Linked DNA regions of Homo sapiens. The protein of the gene in region 1 binds, or shares a complex with, the protein of each later gene. Each region holds a gene or a part of one and is shown on either strand. Other genes may lie near its edges. The genes, in order: MED12, MED13, MED26 and CCNC. A codon is read from its position in the direction of its gene.

Region 1 (7,036 bases):
CCAGCGAGTCATGAAAAGATAGGTCACTGACCTGGAGGAAAAAACAGACAGACACCATGACTCAGTGTGGAGGCCCACTCAAAGCGGTGTGCCTCCACTCTACGGAACTCTGTCCCTGGTCAGAGGATCACAACCAGCCCCCTGCCCTGGTCACTGCCCCACTAGCAAAACCCCACCCCAAGTCTCACATCAACATTGCAGAGGAGATCGTTGAAACCACAAGTGCCATTGTTAGAGGAGCAGCACAAGGCCTTAAGCACTCCTAGCCATTCTGCACTCAGTGACTTGCAATAGCCGGTCAGCTCTGCACACAGGATTGCGATGTCATTCACCCTAGGGAAAAGTACAAATGCCCTCAGGAAAAACCTTGCTCCACAAAACCTCAGACCCATTAACTTCTCATCTCTGCCCCACTAAATAATCAAGGTTGTAGTACCTCCCGGGTACCTCAGCCCTCCCTATCTCAGATGGGGGCATGGTGCCCTTCCTCACTCAGTACACCCCATACCTATCGGGATCATGGTGCCCCACACAGACGTGCATAAGGGCATTGCAGACAAAGCTGTAGCGGTTAGCAGGGTTCTCACTAAGACTCTTGCCTAGCCCCGTGTAGGTGAAGGTGTGAGCTGCAGGGTTCTCTAGAGTGTCGATCATGAACTCAGGTGCCCAGCGCATATTTGATTCCGATGGCTCCACGTTGCAGTAGATGGTGTTCTTCACCTTTGAGCAAAAGTCGCTGCAGGGATGGAGGAAAGGAGATAGTAGTGTTGAAGAAGGCCTGCTGAGGTCGAGGGATGGTCAGGAAAGGGGAGAAAAGAAAAAAAGGAGAAAGTGAGGGATGAAGGATCTTGAGACAAGAAAAGGGAGATGGGACAAAACAGACTGGGCAGGAAAGGAACCACATGGGAATAAGGAACTGGGGCCTCTGAAGGCAGTGAGGAAAAGGGGGAAGAGGGTGGGCCCCACAGATATAGGCGGGGAGCAAGCCTGCTGAGGAAGAGGGCCCACTCTTGGTAACACAACAGTATGTGGAGGACACAGTCCACAAATGACCCTAGACAGGCAGCAGGGTCCCGGGCCATCCTCTCCTCCTGAGTTGGGTGGTCATGGGAAGAAGGGAGTAGGTCCCACTCGCTACCCCTTACCTTCCACCTCTCTTACCTGAAGAGCTCCCCAAATTTGTTCTTTAAATGGCTACAGGAGGTGTACAGATCATAGAGATAAGCAAGGATACAGCGCTCTGCAGAGGAGCCATCGGACCGGTTCATCCCATGCTTCACGACGCCACACAGCCTGCATGAAGAAGCAAGGTTGGGAGGGTCAGCAGATGGTATGCGGGCTCCTCCAAACAGATTCAAGCCTCTGGGAAATACCATTCTTTTCCCACCTGAGCAGCAGGTGCTTCCCCAGAGTGTGAGGAAGTGCATGCTCTTCCCAGGCCACTTCCACCGGCATTCGCCAGAGCTTTGTTTCAGTTATTCCGAAGCTCTGCTTACCCCTCAAAGACCTGTGCCATCTGGTCCTGGTTGAGGATGAGGCAGGCATGATAGTGCCGCAGGACAGCCACGATGCACAGGCACAGGCTAGTAGTGTAGCTGCCCACCAGATCCGAGGATTTGAGAAGCAGCTCAGCCTCAACTACACTCAGTTCATTCAGCAGCTAGCAGAGTAAACGGGGGTGAGAAATGCAAAGAGGCCCCTTGTGTTACATAGAAACCACCTTCCTGTGGGGACGCTGGCAAGGCTGGGCCTGAGCCCCTTCCTGCTGGAGCCACCACAGGATAGAAGGGCTCGTTACCCTATGCCACAGTCTATCAACAACACCTCTATTGATAGTTTATTGTTGATAGTTTATTCTATCAACAACACCTCTAACCAGTGTCCAGGATACAGTTCTATGAACTCCACAGTGGGAGGATGGTCTGTGCCCAATGCTCTAATCTGCCTCTTGGCCTCCCCAGGGAGCACTTAAGTCTCTATTCCTGCAGTCTTAGCTCATGTTCCACTCCCCCCATGCTAGTCTTTCTGCCCCTTCAAATAGCTTGGGAAACTGGCTGGAGCCTCTACGCCTGTCCTTATGACCCTCCGTAGCCGCTATATGGCATGAACTCCTGCCTCCACCCTCATCTCCCCAACTTCCCCACCTGAATGGCAAAGTCGATGAGGCCACTGATGCTGAGTGAATATTCCATGAGGTCGAAGATGAACTGCACATGCTGCACCAGAGGCAAGTGGTATGACATGCCAAGGGCAAAGCTCGTGATCTGCTCCAGAACATTCCGGGAGACCTGATAAGGGCAGTGGGAGTGAGATGGGAGTGGAGAGAGGAAAGAACCAGGGAAGGAGGAAAGGATGACACTGGAAGGGGATGAGACCAGGAGGCTTAGCCTGCCTAGCAGGGAGAAGATAGGGAAGAAAAGGAAAACAGAACAGGAGGCCAGAATGTGGGAAAGGGGCTGGGCTTAGGCCCACACCTGAGCCGTGACCTGGTGTTGGTCATAATGTGAAAGGTGCTGGAACTTAGCAAAGATATCTTCAGCAGTGGGGAAGGCTTCAGGCCGGTTGCGTCGCCGCTTCTGCCCATCCTCCCCACCTGAGGGGACAGTTGAAAGGGACCAGTCAAGACAGGGAAGATAACTAGTTGACTAGGGGTGGGGAGTGGGGTATGGAGAGAAGGCTATGGGAGGGAGGGAGGGAGAGATGGAAGGAGGGAGGGAGGGAAGGAAGGAAGAGGGAAACAGGGAAGGGAGGGTCAAGGAAGGGATGGGGGAGGAATGAAGGGAAGGGGACAGTGAAGCAAAGGTTTAGAGGACCACAGACTATGTGGACCTTAAAGGAATATGTACAGGGAGGTGCTAGGTTCAGGGAGGGAAGGGAGAGGGAGGGAGGGCAGTATGGGGCTTACTGTGAGGTACCTAAGAATGTCAGGTCTCCAGGATTCAGAGGCACAATAGGAGCAAGCTGGTCTGTAGAGGGGGGGAATGAGGGGGGAAGTTTCAAAAGGACTAGAGCTCTCAGGAGACTCCAAGAGACAGGACATTGGGACATGACTGGGGAGTTCCCTATACTGGGGAAGGGAAGACTGACTAGGGCATTCTTTGGGGGAGATCTGTTTAAGGAGCCTCAAACCCACCAGTTTCTGCTGTCCCTTTGCGGTTCAGAACCTTCAAGATATCCTTGGTGATTTTCTTGATGGCATGGCGGGCATCATCTCGCTGCTTTCCCACCCCAAACAGTACGACCAACCGCTGGTTGCACTCATGGCTGCATGACTCCTCCTGCATCCCAGCAGCACCATCAGACTCCAGCACCGATCTCCTTCCCTCCTCTTGAAAGCATGCTCCACACCCCTCAGCATCCACATGCTAAAGCCCTTCCCTTTCCCAACCCACATCCTCAGAACAGCTCCAACCCCTCAGCAAATTCCTTTGACAGCAATCTGGGTTCAAAACAGATCATCACAAGGTGCTGGGGAATAGTACCTGGGGGATGGGAAAATGGGTGGCGTACTGCACGTGTCGTGGCTGGTCGTAAAGAACCCCAAGGGTCCCTTCAATCTTCTCCTTGGGTGGGGGCTTCACCTCCTTCTCGACATCTGGCTTCTCAGGGGATGGACTGCCCTTCCCCTCACAGGGCATAGTAGGGGAGAACAACTGAGAGAAAGGTGAGAAAGCAGAACATGAGAAGAAGGAAAGTGGATGAGGGGGCAAAAAAACATGCCAAAAGCAGGCATAATGGGAAGATCCAAGGATCCAGATTCTGCCACGCTCAGGATTGAACTTACTGAGAAATCAGGCTTCTCCATGTCCTCAAAGAGAACACTGGAACTAGGGTCAATGTCCATAGATTCTGAGAGCCCTGGATCCTGAGGGCATAGAACATAAGCGAAGTTGCTTTAGCCCTAGGGAGTGGCTCCCACCATCTGTAAAACTTCATTGGGGAAGTGGAGAGAGAAGACCAGATTGGGGAAAGCACAGGATCTGGAGTCAAGCCTCATCCAATCACTTAACCAGTATAGGCCTCTGTTTTCTTCAGTTTGAAAATGGGGATAAGAGTACCTCACAAGGCTGATGGGAGGAACCAATGAAACAATTGATGTGAGAGTGCTTGGTCAATCACCAAGTGCTAAGAAAAATACTACCCCCCTCCCCCAGGCAAAAGAGGCTCTTAGAGGCCCCTGGGAGCCATGAAGATGGAAATGTCAGAAGAAACGATCTAGTGCAAGGAAAAGCCCACTCACTTCCAGCTTGCTGCTGCTGCTGCCTTCAGCCTCCTTGTGCTCTGGGTCATCGGCAGGATCATCAAAGGGAGAGGGAGGCCGGGGACCAGGGGCTCCAAAGGCAAGGTCCCCTCGGGAGATGAGAGTGCAAGTATACATGTTGTGGGAGAAAACATCATGTCGAATCAGTTCACAGAACAGCAGTACTAAGTTAAAGAATTCCACCCGCTCACTCTCACTTCGAGGGTCCGCTGGAGGAAGGGAATGAGGAAACATAAGTTAGGAGAACACAAAAAGGTGGGCCAAAAGAGAGAGGGACACACCTAAGGCAATAATAAGAGTGATCAAATAGAAATCCCAGAAATTGTTGAGGGACAAAGTGTGGTTGGTTACCCCACATGCTGTCCCACACATCATCTCAGAAAGGAATGTAACATCTTTGTTGCGATTTATGCAGTGAAAATGCTTCAATCACAAGCTCTTGTTTTTATCCTTCTCTGTATTTCTCTACTCTGTTTAACTGTAAGATGACCAGTTAAAGAGGATCACTAGAACTACATCTAAAAGTCATTCTGCATAGAGCCCAAGAGAGAAATATAGACCAGAGGGCTGTTAATTATGCTTTCTGATGACAGTGGTGGGTAACTGAGTCTAGGCAGAGGTAACTAGAGAGTGGTAGGGGTCCGTACTCAGCATGGGAGCCTGTGTATCCAGAAACTGCAGGAGGACATCCTGGAAAATGGGAGCACTGGGAGCAGAAAGGGAGCCAGAGGCGATGGAACCCTTCTCATCTGCGGCTTCTGATTCTCCACAACGCTGCAAGATGACAGAACAAATTGTAGAACTGACTTTTACCTGCTTCTTCACTCCTCAATGTGTAGGCCTTAAACTACCACCTGCTTGACCTCTACCCCATGCTTTTCACTTTCATTCCCCTGCTGACCTCCATGTTCTTTACCACCTCCCAACTGAAGCCTTGATGTTATCTCTAACTCTTACTACAATCCACTCTTCTCTACTTTCGCCTCACGTCCGTAACTTTGCCTTTAGGTTCTCTTTTGCTTCTTTACTCTGTTCTCACACCTTCAACTCTGGTCCCTCCACCACCTCCATCTCTCGGTCTCCAACCGCAGTAAATTCCTTCCCATTGGCCAATCTTGTTCTCTTATCTCTGCCCTCTAACCTCAGCCTCAATCTCCGCCTGTCTCTTCTCCAGGAGCTTGGCTACCACCATAGCACGATGCCGACCAGAACGCTTGCAGCTGACAGCCCATTCACATAGCAATGACACCACAGCATCATCATCTGAGGAGATCTGGAGAACAAAGGAAGAGAAGGAGGAGTAAGGTAGGGGTGGGGACAAAGAAATGAGTTCCAATTTCCTAAAGACTGGGCTCTATCATAAAACATCCTGGGCCCAGTAAGATCATTTCTGCAGATATGCTCTGCTTTCAATGCCTCACCATGACTTCCCTCTCAGACATATTATTGCTCTTGCAATGTTTTTTGCTCCTTCTATTCCCCTTTTCGCTTACCTCATGCCCATCCTTGCTAGGTCCCAATCCAAAGATTCGGTTACAAAGGGAGTCAAGAGAGTTGCTGAAGTCAGAGCGTTCAAAACTATGGCTGTCCAGCACTTCCAAAGTATGAAGTACCCGTCCAATGGTGAAGCCTAAGGAGGAAAAGTGGTAAAGGGGACTGAACCAGAGGCCCGGTGCATTCTGGCTCTTAGATCTACATGTCCTTACTATCCCCATCCTTTCCTCAAACATATTTCCTATTATCTGTTCTCTGACACATACCTGCAGTAGCTTCCTGGCATTTATCGAAAGACCAGCGAACTTCAACTGCCTGTCCCCGCTCCTTGATCTGCTGCTCGATCTCCCGCAACTTTGCACGGACCTGCAATGTTAAAAAGGAAGGCTACAAGGATGTACCAAGGCATATAAAAGGCCAGAGCCCCAGGCTAGAAGAATAGTACTAGACTCCAAATCACTACTTCTGAAAGAGTAATTTAGCCTCATAGCCCAATCTGAGAGTACCAGGCTAGTGGTCAGACATACCTGCTGAGTGAAGGCACTGTTACCCTCTGGCATGGGCAGGTTGGACGGGGCAATAGGCAAGTGGTCAAGTGGTGAGCCGGTCTTAATTCTGCTATCAGTCAGTGAGTAGTGCCAAACCAAGGCACTAGGACAGCACAGGAGGATGGTCTACCAGATAGAAACAGCTAAGTCCAACTCATTCACCATGGTTACCCCTCTGGAATCCCATTCTAAGACCCAACCCGTAGATTCCAGATCCAAAGTTATTCTGACTGGGTCCCCAAGACAGGCATCACTCCACCCCGATCCCCTCCCTTCACTCACTTTCCTAAAAGGCTTTGGGCCCACTATTTAGCCTTGGAAGGGAGAGAGAGGCTGGTGAAAACCCCCAAAGGGGACTAACACCCCATTACCAAGAAACAACAACCTCCAAGCAAGTACTCAGCACCTACTCCCACATCCAATTTGGAATTACCCCTATTCTCTGGGATGGGCACCTGATTCTTCTCAGGCTATCTCTCAATGCTTCCTTGGGCCCGCCTAGTACCTACCTGTAGGATACAGCTGAGGCCAAAAACCAGGGGCCGGTGCTGAGGGCACATAAGCAGGTCACTAAAGGGAGTCGAGGGTGTGCTGCTAGTTGGGGGCTGAGGAGCAGGGGTGGTGGGTAGCGTGCTTGTTGACTGAGCAGATATAACATGAGATGAGTGACTGCTCACACCATCCAGCTGCAGGGCCAGTCTCCGTGTACAGAAGTAGGCAAGCCGGCGGGACA
Region 2 (7,036 bases), on another chromosome or scaffold:
TTATTTTTTTTATTTTTTTTCAGACCGAGTTTCACTCTTGTCGCCTGGGCTGGAGTACAATGGCAGGATCTCGGGCTCACTGCAATATCCACCTCATGGGGTCAAGCAATTCTCCTGCCTTAGCCTCCCGAGTAGCTGGGATTATAGGCATGCGCCACCATGCCCAGCTAATTTTTGTATTTTTAGTAGAGATGGGGTTTCACTAGGTTGGTCAGGCTGGTCTCAAACTCCTGGGTGGCTCATGCCTGGAATCCCAGCACTTTGTGGGGGGCCAAGGTGGGCGGATCAACTGCTCTGTATTTCATTTGATTCTCTCAATACCCTGTAAAGTAAATCTATTATTGACCCTATTTTAAGAAATCAAGGCACAGAAAGGTTAACTAACTTGGCCCAAGGTAGCAGGTAGTATATAGTGCTAGAGTCATGGTAGTATATAGTGCTAGAGTCATGTTTCAAACCCAGGCAGTCTGAGTCCACAGCCTATGATCTTAACTACTCTATATGGCTTAAAATAATCTTTCCTTTTTTTTGAATACCTATGATATTTATTTGTGTCTTTCCCTTTTTAAATTTGGTCCCTGAGAATGAATAATTGGATAAATGCTGATACTGTCATATACATGAACTTAATCACTGGTCCATGTGTTGTCCTCTTACATTTCAAAAATTTTCTTTAATAATAAAATGAACAACTGTAATCTCACTGCCCAAGAACTAGAACATTACCAAAAACGATCTTATTAAATGTTTCTCCCTATCCCTATCTCTTGGTCATTTTTGGACACATGTGAAATTTCAAGAATTAACCAATATTCTCAATTTTATGTGCATGTAAATAATACATTTAGTTGTGCTTGTTTCAAAACTTTATTAACGGTAATACATTAAAGAGGTATTTTTAAAGGGTATCTGACTATATGTAATCTTCTGGGACTTGTTCCCTCTTCCTCTCCTCAATAGTATCACTAAGATTCATCTATTTGTTATACATAACTGTAATTCATTTTCAGAAGCCATATAACATTCCATCTGTACTATCATGATTACTCAACCCTGCAAACATGGCCATTTTTTTCTTTTTGAGAAAAATCTCACTCTGTCAAATAGGCTGGAGTGCAGTGGTACAATCATGGTTCACCGAATCCTCCACCTCCTAGGTTCAAGCTATACTCCCACCTCAGCCTCCCAAGTAGCTGAGACTACAGGTGCATGCTACCACACCCAGCTAATTTTTGTATTTTTAGTAGAGATGGGTTTTGCCATGTTCACCAGGCTGGTCTTGAACTCCTGGGCTCAAATGATCTGCCTGCCTCAGCCTCCCAAATGCTGGGATTACAGCCATAAGCCATATCTGTCAATTAAAAAAAATTCCTTTCTATAGGATCACTCCCAATGCACCTTTAATAAAATAATAATAAACCTCTCTTTTAACCCTATTATGCAATTTCTCTGCTATTTACAGCAAAAGTCCCCAGAAAATTGTCTAAGTTTGCTTCTCATCCCGTTCTTTTGTGAACCCACTCCAATCAGATTGACTGAAACTGCCTATCAAGGTGACCACCAACTTCTATTTGGTCACATCCAATAGCCTGTCTCAGTTTTCACCTTAATGTATCGAAGTATTTGATAGAGATGATCACTCTCTTCTAAATATTCCCGGGCCAGGCACGGTGGCTCACACCTGTAATCCCAGCACTTTGGGAGGCCGAGGCAGGTGGATTGCCTGAGCTCAGGAGTTCGAGACCAGCCTGGGCAACACAGTGAAACCTCGTCTCTACTAAAATACAAAAAATTAGCCGGGTGTGGTGGCGTGCACCTGTAGTCCCAGCCACTTGGGAGGCTGAGGCAGGAGAATTGCTTGAACCCGGGAGGTGGAGGTTGCAGTGGGCCGAGATCACGCCACTGCACTCCAGCCTGGTGACAGAGCGAGACTCTGTCTCAAAACAAAAACAAACAAACAAAAATTCCCTATACCTGATTTCTAGGATACCATGCTCCCTTGGTTTTCCTCCAACCTCCTTCTCAATTTCCTTTCCTGGTGCCTTTTCTCCCTCCCCACTTATAAATGTCAGCTCCATCCTTGTACTACTCTATCTACAATTACTCTACAGTTTATTTCATCCAGATCCACAGCTTTTCATAATAACTCACACACAAAATTTTTCTATCTCCAGACCCAATCATTCCTCTGAATTTAAAACATATTATCTCCAAATGTGTATCTGATTTACTCCCCCGTGTTTCCCTCCTCTGTAGTTAGTACTACCATTCACCCAGGTGCTCAAGCTATTATTGATGCCTCATCTTTCCTTACACGTCTTTTGGCAAACCCTGTAGGTTCTATTTCCCAAATAACCTAAAACCTATTACTTACATCTCGCTGGCCTCTTATCTTGTCTAAGCTACCATCATCTTTCACCTAAGCTACTGAAACTGCCTTCCAACTGATTTATCCTGCTTCTGTTCTCACTTTCACTACTTCCAAACCCCAACGCTATTTTCCACACAATAGCAACAGAGTGTCTTGCTCTGTTGCCCAGGCTGGAGTGCAGTGGCATTATCTCAGCTCAACACAACCTCCGCCCCCCAGGTTCAAGCAACTCCTCTGCCTTGGCCTCCTGAGCAGCTGGGACCACAGGCACGCCCCACCATGCTGGCTAATTTTTGTATTTTTCACCATATTGGGCAGGCTGGTCTCAAACTCCTGGCCTCATGATCTGCCCACCTCAGTCTCCCAAAGTGCTGGGATTAGACGCATGAGCCACCGCACCCAGCCATTTTTTTTTTCTTTTAGATGGGAGTTTCACTCCTGTTGCCCAGGCTGGAGTGCAGTAGTGCGATCTTGGCTCACTGCAACTTCCGCCTCCCAGGTTCAAGTAATTATCCTGCCTTAGCCTCCCGAGTAGCTGGGATTATAGGCGCCCACCACCAAGCCCAGCTAATTTTAAATTTTTAGTAAAGACGGGATTTCACTATGTTGGTCAGGCAGGTCTCGAACTCCTGACCTCAGGTGACCTGCCTACCTCAGCCTCCCAAAGTGCTGGGATTACAGGCATGAGCCACTGTGCCAGACTGAGAGATCTCTTAAAAAACAATCAGAATAAGGATCATGTTACTTTCCTTGTCAAAACTGTTCAATAGCTTCCCATCACATTTAGTATAAACCACAAAGGCCTTACATGGTCTATAAGACTCTAAATGATGCTGGTGAATGGCTACCTCCTAAATTTCATCTCCTTCCAGTCTCCCTATCACACAAAGCATTCCAGCAGCATCAGTCACCTTAATGTTCCTCAAACATGTAAAAGCAAAATACTCCCTCAGGGTCTTTGCACTGCCTGAAACACTCTTCCCTCATTTAACTACATAGCTCATATTCTATGTTATGTAGGAGTTTTCCCATATGCTATCTCCTCAGTAGTATCTTATCTGACCATACATCTAAAATAGTACATATGTGGTGTCTTGTTCTGTTTTACTCTGCTTTTCCTCCAAATTACTTCTTACTATCTATTATATGCTTTTTTGTTTATTTCCTATTTTCTCCACTAAATTATAGATTCAAAAAGGGCAAAGAATATGTGTGCTTTGTTCAACAGTGAATCTAGGCTAATACCTGGCACATACAAGGTGCCCAGTAAATACTTAATGAGTGAAAGAATGTTGAATAAAGCAGACCACTAGCAATGTTATGCTAATAAATATATGGAATGTGCCTTTCATATTCCTACATAAGTATATAATTACAGATTTATAATAACCATACTTTTATTGGTGAAATTAAACTAAACTGCTAAGAAATTCTCCCTTTAAAAACATCATCCATAAAGAGTTTTAAGTCCAACTTTAAATGTATTTGCCACATGGGAAACTGCCTTTATTACTTTTTCCTAAGAATGTAACTAAAGGGAAATAAGCAAACAAAAAAGTATTTTATTGGCATACTTTACCGTTTCTTTTGGACCAGGGGTGTAAGCATGAACTTTTCACAAGTGCTTCATCAACTTTTCCTCCTGACATGTTATCCATGAACTGACGCCCATGTTCTAATGCAAGGTAGCAGTCATTGCAACAGTCACGCTCTTCAACACGTACCCAATTGCTAATTACACCACTTTTAGGAAAAGGATCTTGGTCTGCTGCTCCAAAGGGTGAAAATAAATTAGTGCACTGATCTTGTAGCAATAATATCAAATCATCAGATAATTTTTCAGATTCCTTTAGTCCTCCATTAACATGTTCAGCAGAGGTAGCCCTGAGAGCTTCAAAACGTTTTTCTGCTTCTTTGCCACAGTCTGTATTGCGTCCTATGATATCTAGTTCATCTTCAAGAAATAATCCTGAATTGTTTCCAAATTTTCTGTTCATGACAGCACTGAAGCCACAGGTACACCTATATTGTGCTTCCTGCGTTGGATCTGGAATGTAAACTCCAACATCGGCACCCTTGATGTTCATGTTGCAAACACAGATGCAACAACTATCAAAGTTACAGTCTTTAAACAAATTCATAACTGATTCTGAAAGGATGAGGTTTACATAAAGACTGTGTGCTTCAGGGATGGAAGGGACAGTTGCAGGTTCAACAGAATTAAGGGGTCTGCATGTAGATGGGGTAGAAGCTGGTGAATACAAGTCTGAATTTTCATATTTGACTGAACCTTGAGCACTAGCAGGTCCACCAGCTCCACGAGGAGTCCGAGGAGTCCTTGGAGTCCTTGGAGTTGGAAACCGAGGGGTGGATGGAGAAGGAAGAATTCCTGCTCCGCTGTTACTAGGAGGTGCACTGCTAGGAGGCATCCCAAAAGAAGTATGAGTTTGAGGTGTATAAGCAGTGCCATATTCTTGATCCATATTACTTCCATCACTATCATCACCAGGGTAAAAGAAGATCAAATATATATATAAAGGAACATATTAGTAATGTGAAATACAACTAAAAACGTCCCAAATGTTTTTCAATTACATAGAAAATTATGAAAGGACAAGTATTGCAAGAATTACAAGCACAGTCAATTCTTATTTCTGGTTAACATATCTACTCTAAGTGATTGTTGTTGACTAAGGATCAATTAACAAGTTCAAAAATCATTAATAAGCACTCTATACACTAATGCATACCTAGACATCCATATTTACTATCTATAAATTTTGTTTACTAGAAATACTTATATTTCCTTGATTCTAAGATGCTACTGACTATAAAAAAAGAAAAATGATTTTAGAGATGCTCATGTGTAAAAAGGGAAAAATGGTAATTTTAAAATGCTACCACTTATAAGACATCTCAGATTCAGATTTCTTTTAGCCTTGAGTTGAAACTGACCAAGTCAGAGATGTTAAAATGTGAAAAGTGTGGAAAAGATGGCAAATGTAAAAATGGGAGCAATTTAAAATTGCAGCCCAAAAGAAAAGGTGCTTCGGAATACAAATCAAGCATAATAGTCTTAAGTTTCCTAATAGTTTATCCATACCCAATTAACCTTTTTTTTTTTTTTTTTGAGACAAAGTCTCACTCTTGCCCAGGCTGGAGTGCACTGGTGCGATCTCGGCTCCCTGCAATGCCTGACTCCCAGGTTCAAGCCATTCTTGTGCCTCAGCCTCCCAAGTAGCTGGGACTACAAGCATGCGCCACCACGCTTGGCTAATTTTTGTATTTTTAGTAGAGACGAGGTTTCGTATGTTGGCCAGGCTGATCTCAAACTCCTGACCTCAAGGGATACGCCTGCCTTGGCCTCCCAAAGTATGGGAATTACAGGCGTGATTCACTGCTCCCAGCCAATCACTATAATTGATTAACCAGAAATAATTTTTAGAATTTTCAAAAACCAATTTTATTTTTCCAGCATACCAGGTAAATCTATGAAAAAAAAATTAAAGCTGTATAAGCAGTCACATACTATTGTAACAACATAAATCATACCCCTCTTTGATGAATGGCATTGAAGGCCCTGAAGAAAGCAATTCCAATTTTCCAACAGTCCAACTCTGACGGTAAATACACTCTTCTGGCAATTTGATAGGGGGCAGATATTGGCTTGGTAGAGTTTTTAGAGGTGCAAACATGGAACATCCCACTAGAATTTGACAATTTTCAGGCTTATAGACATAAGAAAAATCCTACAATATAAAGATGGTAGGTTTTCAGTATCTTATCTTCTAGGAGGAAAAAATAAATAAACAAACAGGCTCTGGACCTTTTTTCCTTTCTTTAAACAGAATAAAATCTAAATACAATTCTATTATTTTCTTAAATGCATTCTTAATAGTGACAACAATAATTCAGTCCTCAACTTAGCTACAAAACCGCAACCACTATAAAATAATTTTTGACTATAGCAACAAATTAATTCTATAAGAAAATATAGGAAGTGAATTATTTTTCTAGAAAAAACATACTTACTTTAATTTCAGAAGGTTTGGGGCTACAGAATCCCTCATCAACCTCAATTTTGAACTGCGCTCCTATACTAGAACTATTTCCTTCTAGAACAGTTCCTCCAGGTGTTGTATCCATACTACCATATTCTTTATTATTCATATTCATTGGGGAAAATCCCATAATATGTTGTTCCAATGATGGTGGTGTAGGATACATTTTATGAAGATCTGCAGTGCCTATATTTAATAAAAACATACATTTTAACATGACTAAAAATAGGCGAATCTGTGTTTAAACCAAAAGGAGTGGGGAGCTTTGTTGAGATTAAAAGTTCGCAAATTTATCTCGAGCACAGATGAGGGAAGCTTACTTATGCAAGATAACGGGTCCAGATTTCCTGTCTTTGATTCCTTGCAGCTGGCTTTATCATCTGATCCATTTGCTGATTTTTTAGATCCAGGCTATTTAAAAAAAGCACATATTTATCTAAAATTTTACATCCAATGTGATCTCAAAATAGTAATCATTCAGATATAACTTAACAGTAAAGCCCATTCATTAAAAGTAGTATTTTGAATCTGTGATACAGCCAAATACATACTAGTGTTGAAAGATATAAAATATTTCTTAATCACTGACTCCAGATTAATTTAT
Region 3 (7,036 bases), on another chromosome or scaffold:
GTTAATAATTTCTGCCAATTCAGTAATAAAGTAAATCCTCTACTCTCCTTTTGAAAAGGCTACTAACAGTTTTTCAGAGCAGTTGGAGCTTTTCTTTTCGTCGTGCACCCTTTCAGCCCAGGGTGTTGAAAATCTCTCCGAAGCGCAGTGTGTGCATGATTGTTCCAGCTTACTCTCACTGCATTGTGGGTAAAGTGAAGGACTGTGTCTTACTCTCGCACAGCAGTCATAGTGAGCAGTCTCCTCAGCAGGTGATTCGGTTCCCATCTGCCTGGGACACTCGTTCTGTGGAGGTATGAGCTTTATCTTCCTGTGCAGCACGCAAGCTTCTTGGGGATGTTTCCTGTCTTGTCTTCTCCCTCTAGAGCAGAAGCATTAGGCACACTTTCTACCTGCTGCTTAAACTGACTGAACCCTAGCATCCATCTTGGACCTGTGCCTGAGGAGCTACATTTGAGCCCCATTTTACCAAGAAGCCTTTGTGACCACTTTATGCCCAAGAGTTCAGTCGTGGAATATTCTAATGCAGAACTTTGGAGAGTGGAAGAATCACAGGTGGCTTGAGATGCTACTCAGTAGAACTGTGAGGAACACAGATGTTAAGTGATGATTAACAAACTTAGCTTTTAGAGGAAAGGTCCGACGAATAGTAGACGGTGTACTGCATCCTCATGGCAAGTAAAATAACCGCACAGGGCAGGGCTTGCTAGCTGCAGGTGAATGCCCTGTGTTCAGACCAGGGAGAGGCCTGAGAAGGTCCCGCAGCAAAGAGGGACTTGAACTAGCCCTGGCCGCGTGTGTCAGTGCCTCCAGCTGCCAGGCTCTGAGCGGGAAACGTCCTTGGGAGCTGCTTTCTTTTTCACAGCTCTTCAGGCAACAGAGACCAAGGGAGAGGTGACCGAGGCACTCTGCAGAGAGACACAGCAAGAAAGATCATTTTCCCACCTAAGAATTGGAAGGTTGGATGTTGCTTACCTTGGTTTGCCTGCAGATTTCTTGTCCACAGGGTGGGATTGGGAACTGGTGTATGCACCCCATAAAGCTCCTTCCAGATCTAAGTTCAGATCCTAGAAGGGACAGCAGAGACTAATGTCAATTGTTCTAGAAGGGGTTTTTTTTTTTTAATATATCTTTGCAAGGTACATTGTGTGAAGTTTCTCAACTAACAAAATTCTAAACCAAGGTGTATGCTTTGTTAGTTTGTGTGGCACCCTGTCAGAGAGTTCTGCTTCTCCCCAACAGCCTTGTGAGTGGGGGAGCCAGTCTCCCCTTTTGCAGGTGCAGAAGCCAGCAGCATCAGGTAATAGGTGCTGCTCAGTGGGTGTCTCCAGGGGCAAGCAGAGGATAAAATGCTTTTGTTTCTTACTGACTTAATGGGAGGTGGTGGAACCAAAGTTAGGGACTTACCCAGAGTCATTAAGTGACAGTCCTTAGAGTCCTTTCAACTCTGAACACCACCACGCTGCCTTGAAAGTTGGAGAGATGGCTCCGGAAGAGGCACGAGGGGGCAGCATTTTTGAGCTGGTAAGAAAACGTGTGAGGATCCTGTAACGTCCCCTACAAGTGTATGTGAGATTACAGATTGGGGCTGGATTTACCTATGTTACATCTAACAGGGTGGTGATATGACATAGCCTGTCCCGTGAACATCTTAAGGTCTCTGTCACAGACAGAAACCTGGGCCAGACCACGGTGTGGCAACTAGCAACCGATGTGGAACTTTTCATGAATCTGTGTGACCAGTTTGCTCTCTACTTCAACATTACAGCACTTTTGATATTAACTTAAAATGCCATTTATTCTGCAGAAAAGCAGAATGGTGTAAATTGCAAAATGAAGGACTCTTGATTCTGACCCTATCCAAAATAGTAGAGGACCCTAAACCCAAACATGTAAATGCCACCTGATCCACAATTGCCCAGATTCAGGGACTCTCCTGTCTTTACTCTGTATATTGTGGCCAGGACACAGGAGAGGAGCAGCGTGGTGTTCTCTGACTTCGGGAAATGGAAAGGTAGCAAGTATCACCTGTGACACAGGTGTATGTCCTTGTCTTTGACTCATTCTGTCCCTCAGGAGAAAGTGGACTTTACAGTCTCTCCTCACTGAGGTTTCTGGGTGGTCCTCAGAATATGTTGTCCTGGTTGGAGGTCCCAGAGCCCTGGAGGACTGTCCAAGACCAGCATGTGGTCAGGGGCTTTGTTCTGGATACAGATGTAAAAAGGCACCATGGTCACGTCAGCCCCTGGGCAGCTGTGTAAGATAGGACATGTAGCTTAAGGGCGCCAAGGTCTCTTAGGTGAAGGAGGACACTTGGCTTTCCTTTTCTTGGTTTTGGGGTCTGCGAGCATCTTCTCAGATGGAGCTCTAGTTTAACCAGGCTGACTCCAGGTGACTCCAGTCCAGCGGGAGGGGTCCCCTGGCCACTTCCCCACTATCATCTCCTTCTGGAAACTGGGTGCTTTGTTACTGCACGTTGTGCTTTTCCTTTGTATTCCTAGTGGTAGGCTGTCCCACGTCTGCCTGGTTCCTTTGGGGACCAGGAGCTGGTTGTCAGAATGGGTGGCCAAGTTTGTGGCACAGTGAGTAAAGGAGAGGCAGCACATTTCATTCCAGTGTGGTCTCGCTAGCACCCATGCTTGGAGCACCTTCCAAAACAGCCGCTTTTCACTCTTAGAGCAGGGTGTGGATTTGCCATCGGGATTCCCTGAACCGGGAAGCATTTCCTGAGTAAGAAAGACATACCGATAATTCTACATGCTGTATTTAAAGGCCTTCTCTGAATACATTCCATGCCTTGGGAGGCACTGCAGTTACATTTCAGTCACTAACTGATTAGCAAGTGCTCGTGTGCTGGGTGTAGAGGGTACAGACCTGAAGATGCTCAGCCCCTGTGCCCAAGGGGCTTGGCGCCTCATAGGGAGGAGGGCAGATAGAGCATGGTCATGAACGAGCTTGGGTGGGGTGCCGTGGCATGTGGGCTCGGCAGTCAGGGATGGCCTGATGGTGCCGCAGGTCTCAAGTCCAAATGGAACAGTTCTCCCCGTGCCTTATTTGAAAACAGTTGAGAATTCTTAAGAATATGAGATGGCTTTCTTAAGTATATTCTATCATCCAGGTTTTCAGAATAAGTTCTGTAGTCAGGCAGGCAGGCTCTTCTTGCGTTGTCTCTGGCATGAGGGGAACAGAGCTGGAAGGAACAGTCGGCAAATTATTGCACAGTTTTCCCTCTCTGCTGTGGGATGGGGCACAGGCAGATGTCGAGCTGTGTCTGTGGGTATGGTTGGGGTGTCTGGGCTTGAGAAAATGGGAAGGGCCTTGGGGTAGCATTACATGGCACTGGTTTTCAGTATTTGGGGTGTTGTTGTACCCTCTGGATTAGATTTGCTCTGTGTGGCTTTTGGAGGCAAGCCTAGGGTGGGGAAGGTGAGAGTTCTGTGATGTGCTTAGGGAAGTGGTGGATTATTGTCAGAGCTGACTTAACACAGTCTGGGGGCACTGTGAGATGGCTATGTGGACATACCCAGGCCCTTGGATTCTGTGTATAGGCCTTTGGATTCTGTGACCATCCAAGTACCGGGAGGTTCTGCGATTCTCTGTGGAGCCTATTCAAAAGGAGAGGGGTCATGTCAGGTGAAGTACCAGCAGCCCTCTGGGAACTCACATCCCAAGGATTGCCAGGCAATTGGGGTTAAAGGCCTTTGGATGTTACTGTGACTGCAGCAAAGTTTCCTGGGTTCATCCACTGCAGGAAAATGAATCTTGGAAAACGTCAGGGGGCTCATCAGGTTTCCCCTGCATGCAGAGTTAGGCTCGGTCTCCTGTGTGCCAGCAGCAGTCTCTGTTGGGCAGCAGAGGCTGCAAGACGAACAGCCGCTGTTTACTGAGCACTTACACAGTGCCAGACACTACTGTGTGGAGTGTCTCATTGCTTCTTTGAATTACTTCTAGGGTAGGTGCTTCATCTTCATTTTAGGGGCTAGGAGAGATTCACCGATTTGTCTGGTATTGCAGACAAGGGAACCAGAAGCCTTGGGTCTGAATCCATCACTGGGTGGTTCTGATGTCAGAGGGCTTAACTACGACAGTCTTCCGCTTCCCACATCGGTGGTGCCCAGCATGGAAGCTGAACTCCATTGCGTCTTCCAAGGTGTACCCTTGCAAACATGAAGTGTTTTCACATGTTACATTTTGAATTCCATTCCTTCCCAGTTCCTACAACTTTTCCCCCTTTAAATTCCTCTAGCCTAGTGGCTCCAAACCTTTTTGAGTATGAGGGTTCATTTTTATCATCAGAAACCTTCTGGAAGCTTCACATAACAACAGGTGTGCTTTGAGTAACTGTTTTAAAGAAAATTCGAGGACAGAACCTACTCCTAATCCAGTCATGCTTCGAAATGAAGTTCTGTCTTGTCATCAAAACAGCATCAGTGTAACTCTGAGAGCAGGCCTTACCTGTATGTGTGTGACACCTGGAATTTGACCTTTGTGCTGCCTCCAGTTGGGAGCCTCCTGTCATCCCTACTGCCTCCCTTTTCTGAAACCTTACCTGGCTTAATCCAAGACCGTCTCCCTCAGGAACCATTCATCATTTTAACACCTTATATTCCTGCTGATAACAGGTCTTGTTGGTTACATTTTCCATGTGATTGTGAAGTGCCCAAGTAGGAGAGCAGGTGTTGCTCCCTTAGTGTCTAGAACTGCCACAGCACGTGGGTGCCCAAATGCTTGGTGCTCTCACTGTAAACAGGGCCAGTTTTGGGAATGGCTGTCAGCGTTACTGAGCAGGTCCTAGGTGCCAGCGGTTTTCAGCACTTCACCTGCATTCAAAACACATTTAATCTTCATAGCAGGTGTAGATTAAACAGGAGGCAGGTACTAGTGAGGAAACTGAGGCTCAGCGGACACAGCTGGAAGGAGGCTAGATGGGATGAGGCTGGGGTTGGAACACAGCCACCTGCTGGCTGCCTCCCTTGTCATGTGAGAGGCCAGTGGGCACTTGCTGCGCAGGCACTCCCCTTTCTTGCCTGGGTCCAGCTGTTTATGCTGGATTCATCTGTGCACTGCTCTTATGCCAGACTGGGAGGACAGTGGTCACTAAAATGCTCTGTGCTTTCTCTGGAACTGGCTGAAGAAGGGGTGTGAGGTGTGTTTTCCTCTCTTTCTCGTCAGGTATTTTTCACCCTAATAGAGAAGGCGGCGCTTGATCTTAGATTTCTGCCTGTCCATGGTCCCTAGACACTGTTCAAATGTCACTTCATCTGTGAAGCCTGGGTCCCCAGCGATCCTTCGGCCTTTTTTGGTCATGTGACAAAACATGGCATTCCTGGACACACATCCCCCCAGATTTTCATTTGCTATGGTGAGAAAGTAGGGTGCTGCTTTGTCCAGGCCACACCCTGGTGGTGGGTCAGCCTCGTGGCTGCTGTGGAGACTCGGGTATTCGTGTGCTGGGTGCACAGCATGGTTTTATAGGGCGTTGGCTGTGGCTGGCCTTGACTCTGGTGGGGGTTCTGTGGTGCAGGCATCAGCAGTGGGTGAGTTACTGGGAGGACTCAGGTGGGTGTGACCCATGGCCCACACCGAGAGCCCAGTGGGCTGGCAGCACTCCCAGGCCCTGGCAGCCCCACTGCCTGCTTGTGCCTTCAGCACGGTAGTGCACTCTTCTGTTTCCCACCCACACTCCTGGTCACATTGGCTCTCTGGGCAGCCCCCTGCACACACTGGGTTTAAGTTCTTATCCCCTTGATGACTTGTTTTGATGTCCCCCGTTCTAGTCATCAGGTTCCTGGCCCAGCTTGAGTTAGGCATGGAGAGGTGGCCACATCCTCGTTCCCCCCAGGGTGATGTAGTAGTTACCATGGTAGCTAACGGCTCTCCTGTTCTGCAGGCCAGCCCTCCAGAACCCTTTATAGATGCTGCCCAACTCCATTCACCTCCCAGGTGCATCTTGCATGGTGCCTAGGCAAGCAGTCAGCAAGCTGGCTTTTCAGTGCTGTCAGTGGGAGACCCGTGATACTGATGTGAAGGGATATAAAATAAGAACAGTTTTATCCTTTTGGGTGGTCATTGGTTCACATTGTTTCCTTCCGTGTTAATTGGTTGCCTGCACAGCACTTGTCTTTACTTCCTATACTAATTCTGTGGCCTGTCCAGCCCTAAAGGGAGGTTAGCACTGTGCTGGTGGCAGGAGCTTAGACACAAAGGGGCTGATGGTCATGCAGGCCCAAAGGCAAGTCTGCGGTCAGGTGAGGACCTGGTTTTTCTGTCTCCCTCTTTTGCAGTGTTGCCTTCACACAGTAGGGTGTCTTCCTCTCCATCCCAGCAGTTTCAGGATTTTCCCTCACCGAACTCCCGACTCTTTGCTGGAAGCCCCACCAAACGTTTCCTTATGCCTTCTCTGAGCTTTGATTGGATTAGCAGTTTGATTGAATTAGTTGATTGGCTTACCCCTGAATCTGCTGTGGGTTCCACCCAAACAGTCCCACAATAGAGGGGATGTTCCCAGGAGACATCAAGGTCCTGTTAACGGGAGAAGAATAGTGGATCCAGTGTCCATGGATGTGCACTGATGTCATCACCTCTCCTGATGTGACCGCCAAATAGTTGGGCCTTGGCTCCAGAAGGCAAAATGGGAGTTTTTGGGGAAAAAAATGGGAAATGTAAGGTCCAGAGTAGCAACAGGGTGGTTTGGCTGGTGTGAGGTCACCGCGTGGAGTTGTGAGTACCTTCTTGTTCTGGTTAAACCACAGACTCCATTTGCCTGTAGTCACCCTTGGGGACCTCGCTGTCACGCTGTCCGAGTGCAGGTGCTGGCCAGCTGCAGCTTCAGATCCTGTCCTGGGCTGGAGACAGTCTTGAATGGTGCTGTTTTTTCCTCCCTGTCTTGACAGTCTCTCCTGGTGCTTCAGTCACTGCCTGGAATGGAGCTCATTGCTGGGGGAGGTGGTGCGGTCCAGGTGGCCTGAACCCCACCAGGCCTCCTGTGGTCATGAGGAGACTGCGCTGTGACCCAGGCAAGAGCTGTGGCCCCTCC
Region 4 (2,810 bases), on another chromosome or scaffold:
GATGGGGGATGGCAACTTACGGAAAGTGGGTGGGAGTTTAGATGAAATGAAATTGGCCATAAATTGATAACTACTGAAGCTAGATGATAGGTACATGGAGGTTCCTTACTTTACTCCTGTATATGTTGTTTTAAATCTTCCACAATAAGAGACTGAAAACAAAACTATGAGGCATGGTATTAATTTTAAAAATAAACACTTAAAGACTATAGGTCTTACCTAAGCCCAACATTAATTCCTTCAGACCTGAGGAGAGCTTTTTTTCTTATTAAGCCCAGGAAACCTATATATGTCATCAGTCTGACTTTACACAGTCTCGCTTTCCAGCTCATTTGATACGCTCCATCAGAAATAAATTTTCTATTTAAAATCTGTTTGTAATGATTTGAAATTACCCCCTTGACAACCTATAAAAGGCTTTAACACTTAACTAAAGGAAGAAGAATTCTCAAAAAACAACATCAGGCAAATTCAAAAAGATAAATTCAAGACACTAGTCGATACAGCTGGAGAAGTTACTTTTATTCTTGCAGTTTTATACTAGGAAGTCAACATTTAATAAGCCATCATCCACAATTGATTAAAAATGTTTAATCCTTAAATTGTGCATCAATATCCTATGACTCCAAATTTTATTTATCACTCTCCTTCAAGTCTGAAGAAAATGATTAATTTGCTAAGTTCCACAGACAGTACAGTCCCACTGACATAACATTTAGTATGATGTCCTACTCTCATATTAGAATTAAGGACAGCCAGTATCAAACTGGCCTGAAACCTGATTGTGTTCCTGGTTCAGAATACCTGTAGTAAATCTGTAAATCCACACCAAGACACAACATTAAACTAGGGTGTGTATATCTTATAAAAACCTTTTCACAGTAAAAATCAACATTAAAATTTTACCAAATTCCAACATTATGGTTTTTGAATCCAATTAAGCTTTCAAAATGCCTGATTAGCTGTGAATTAATTATAAATAACTTCATGTAGTTTGCCCAGCATTTCAAAATGGTTATGGACTATCATGTTTAAAATGTCAAAGTATGCTATACATATTGCACTTTTCTGCTAGGCTGGGCTAGTATCTTCCATGGCAAGATCCTCAAACTACTGAATAAAATACACTTTTAAATCAATATAGGTACTTGATTAATTTCCCTGAAATTATCAACATCATTACCAAAATCTTCCAGGATTTTGTAAGATTTGATTCCTTAAATACAGTTTTAAAGTTAAACTTATGGAGGGAAAAAAACCCTCATAGATTGACTGTAAATTTTACGTCCTTTTTTGGTCCCTCAATGACCAAAGAGAATTTTAAACAAATTATGCTTCATGTTTCCTGGCTTAATAAAAAGCTACAATTTTTATTATCCAAATTAAGAAATATTATACTAATCAAAAGCTATTAATTTTGAAATGTCTATGTATGTCTGTCTGTAGGTCCCCTTAGAACCTTTCCAAACATTTATAATCAAGAGATTTTAATCAATTATGTACTAGAATCATATTAAAGAAAAACTTATTTTGCAAAAATAAAATCACTTTCCAATATGCTTGACAGAAACAAGCTATTCATTTTCATTTGTGTTCCACTGAAGACATTACTGAAATCTGTCCAATGGTTTATTTCCAAGTGGTCCACTATGGAATTCTTCGGAATGTTTTAAGATTGGCTGTAGCTAGAGTTCTGACTTCCATTTGGACCCTGCTCTCCTTCACTGTTCAAATGGGGAAGAAAGAGATTTTATACCAATTAAAAGATCCATTTTTACACCCTGATAAGCCTACTGACTTTTAAATTCATTATTCTGTGGCACAACTATACAAAACAAAGACATTCCTCATTATAAGACACGTGAAAAATTAAAATCCAGAAGACTAACAAACATTGGTTTTATGTTTTTATTCTTATATAACTTTGTGCCCTCACATATAACAAGCATTCTGGAAGTTAGTGTCCATATATACTCAAAAACTTTAAATTAGGGTATGGGATTTCATTGTTATTACAGGTATCACTCAACATAGAGATTACAGCTTCTTCTAAACAAATTTCCTATAAAATTAAATCTTACATATAAAATCCTATTCCTACTATTTATGAAAAACAAGAAGTGTTCTTCAAAAAAAAAAAAAAACCAAAACTGTTGTCCAAAGGCATAATAAAATCATATATAAATACAGCAAACCTTTATAAGTCAGCAAGAAATATGGTAATTTCCTGGAAAATGCTGAATACTTAAAATAAAAATGCTGAATACTTAAAAATAACTAAAACTGAAAATACCAGTAACTTTGGCAATAGGATTATTGCCTTATCTTGTCCACCATCATCTTGCAGCTTCAGGCCCTGCCACTAGTGGAGAATCACTCAGGGAATTTCTGCAAAAAATGCATCCAAAGGTAGCTGTTTGAATGACTGCCTTAAACAGCTCCTTGAATAAAGTATTAACTTTTTCCAAATTGTAACATTAACTTATGAGTAGCAATCCATAAATCTATCTTGTTATATAACAATCATTTTTCTAAAGAAACAATTAAGATGGATGGCATTTCTTTATTTCCCTTCTGACTTTTTCTCCCTGCCCCAAATGAACTGATACACAGTGAGGGCTGAGAACCACTGAACTAAATGAACACATCTTACTTAAAACACACACATACACCCCAATAACAACAAAAAAAACCCTCTTAGCACAGGTGATTCATTTTTAGCAAAAATATATTCTTATGTGCCATGGACCTTAGGGTCACTTAAAAACCAAAATTCTTTATCTTTACAATATCAGATCATTCATTGAAAT

What was found.
Region 2: the proteins of MED12 (region 1) and MED13 are in contact, whole or in part, in a cryo-EM structure (PDB 8TQC), measured with the Homo sapiens proteins. Residues at the interface, in NP_005111.2 of Homo sapiens: Ala3, Phe4, Arg12, Pro13, Arg16, Leu86, Thr123, Thr127, Thr150, Pro152, Val153, Met154, Arg155, Phe242, Pro278, Leu281, Arg282, Arg356 (codon at 6,848), Pro357 (codon at 6,845), Phe360 (codon at 6,836), Gly361 (codon at 6,833), Cys364 (codon at 6,824), Gln367 (codon at 6,815), Thr368 (codon at 6,429), Cys372 (codon at 6,417), Pro407 (codon at 6,312), Glu408 (codon at 6,309), Phe413 (codon at 6,294), Val417 (codon at 6,121), Lys1526; in NP_005112.2 of Homo sapiens: Ser157, Glu158, Thr336, Val337, Pro339, Gln340, Ser341, Gln343, Lys344, Trp345, Lys347, Phe348, Asp1186 (codon at 4,200), Ile1189 (codon at 4,191), Leu1190 (codon at 4,188), Gln1193 (codon at 4,179), Asp1194 (codon at 4,176), Pro1332, Ile1333, Thr1335, Leu1337, Tyr1340, Asp1341, Tyr1342, Asp1343, Tyr1344, Leu1345, Val1346, Leu1347, Ser1348.
Region 3: MED12 (region 1) and MED26 share a complex: the UniProt entries of both Homo sapiens proteins name them as parts of the mediator complex.
Region 4: the proteins of MED12 (region 1) and CCNC are in contact, whole or in part, in a cryo-EM structure (PDB 8TQC), measured with the Homo sapiens proteins. Residues at the interface, in NP_005111.2 of Homo sapiens: Ile6, Leu7, Ser8, Tyr9, Glu10, Pro13, Leu14, Lys15, Arg18, Leu19, Pro22, Asp23, Val24, Tyr25, Asn47, Pro49, Ala50, Val51, Asp54, Glu55, His56, Gly57, Ser58, Ala59, Lys60, Phe64, Pro66, Ile69, Asn72, Phe73; in NP_005181.2 of Homo sapiens: Gly3, Asn4, Phe5, Trp6, Gln7, Tyr11, Ile15, Asp17, Gln19, Asp20, Lys23, Gln49, Glu53, Leu57, Arg58, Gln59, Ile62, Tyr153, Arg157, Pro158, Gln161, Tyr162, Asp165, Leu173, Pro174, Trp177, Arg178, Ile179, Asn181, Asp182.

Annotation. Positions count from the first base shown.
Region 1 is NC_000023.11:71,121,593-71,128,628, reverse strand, and holds part of MED12 (mediator of RNA polymerase II transcription subunit 12), read right to left. Parts: coding exon 6,813-7,036; intron 6,430-6,812; coding exon 6,283-6,429; intron 6,122-6,282; coding exon 6,022-6,121; intron 5,892-6,021; coding exon 5,755-5,891; intron 5,535-5,754; coding exon 5,403-5,534; intron 5,036-5,402; coding exon 4,909-5,035; intron 4,471-4,908; coding exon 4,241-4,470; intron 3,866-4,240; coding exon 3,785-3,865; intron 3,654-3,784; coding exon 3,483-3,653; intron 3,279-3,482; coding exon 3,134-3,278; intron 2,967-3,133; coding exon 2,916-2,966; intron 2,594-2,915; coding exon 2,475-2,593; intron 2,289-2,474; coding exon 2,145-2,288; intron 1,661-2,144; coding exon 1,497-1,660; intron 1,294-1,496; coding exon 1,162-1,293; intron 737-1,161; coding exon 509-736; intron 334-508; coding exon 189-333; intron 32-188; coding exon 1-31. UniProt on the Homo sapiens protein: Component of the Mediator complex, a coactivator involved in the regulated transcription of nearly all RNA polymerase II-dependent genes.
Region 2 is NC_000017.11:61,978,248-61,985,283, forward strand, and holds part of MED13 (mediator of RNA polymerase II transcription subunit 13), read right to left. Parts: intron 6,844-7,036; coding exon 6,753-6,843; intron 6,619-6,752; coding exon 6,404-6,618; intron 6,121-6,403; coding exon 5,924-6,120; intron 4,868-5,923; coding exon 3,951-4,867; intron 1-3,950. UniProt on the Homo sapiens protein: Component of the Mediator complex, a coactivator involved in the regulated transcription of nearly all RNA polymerase II-dependent genes.
Region 3 is NC_000019.10:16,618,200-16,625,235, reverse strand, and holds part of MED26 (mediator of RNA polymerase II transcription subunit 26), read left to right. Parts: intron 1-7,036. UniProt on the Homo sapiens protein: Component of the Mediator complex, a coactivator involved in the regulated transcription of nearly all RNA polymerase II-dependent genes.
Region 4 is NC_000006.12:99,541,886-99,544,695, forward strand, and holds the end of CCNC (cyclin-C), read right to left. Parts: intron 2,389-2,810; coding exon of another isoform or gene 2,337-2,388; exon of another isoform or gene 1,895-2,336; intron 1,725-1,894; coding exon 1,670-1,724; 3' UTR 502-1,669; downstream 1-501. UniProt on the Homo sapiens protein: Component of the Mediator complex, a coactivator involved in regulated gene transcription of nearly all RNA polymerase II-dependent genes.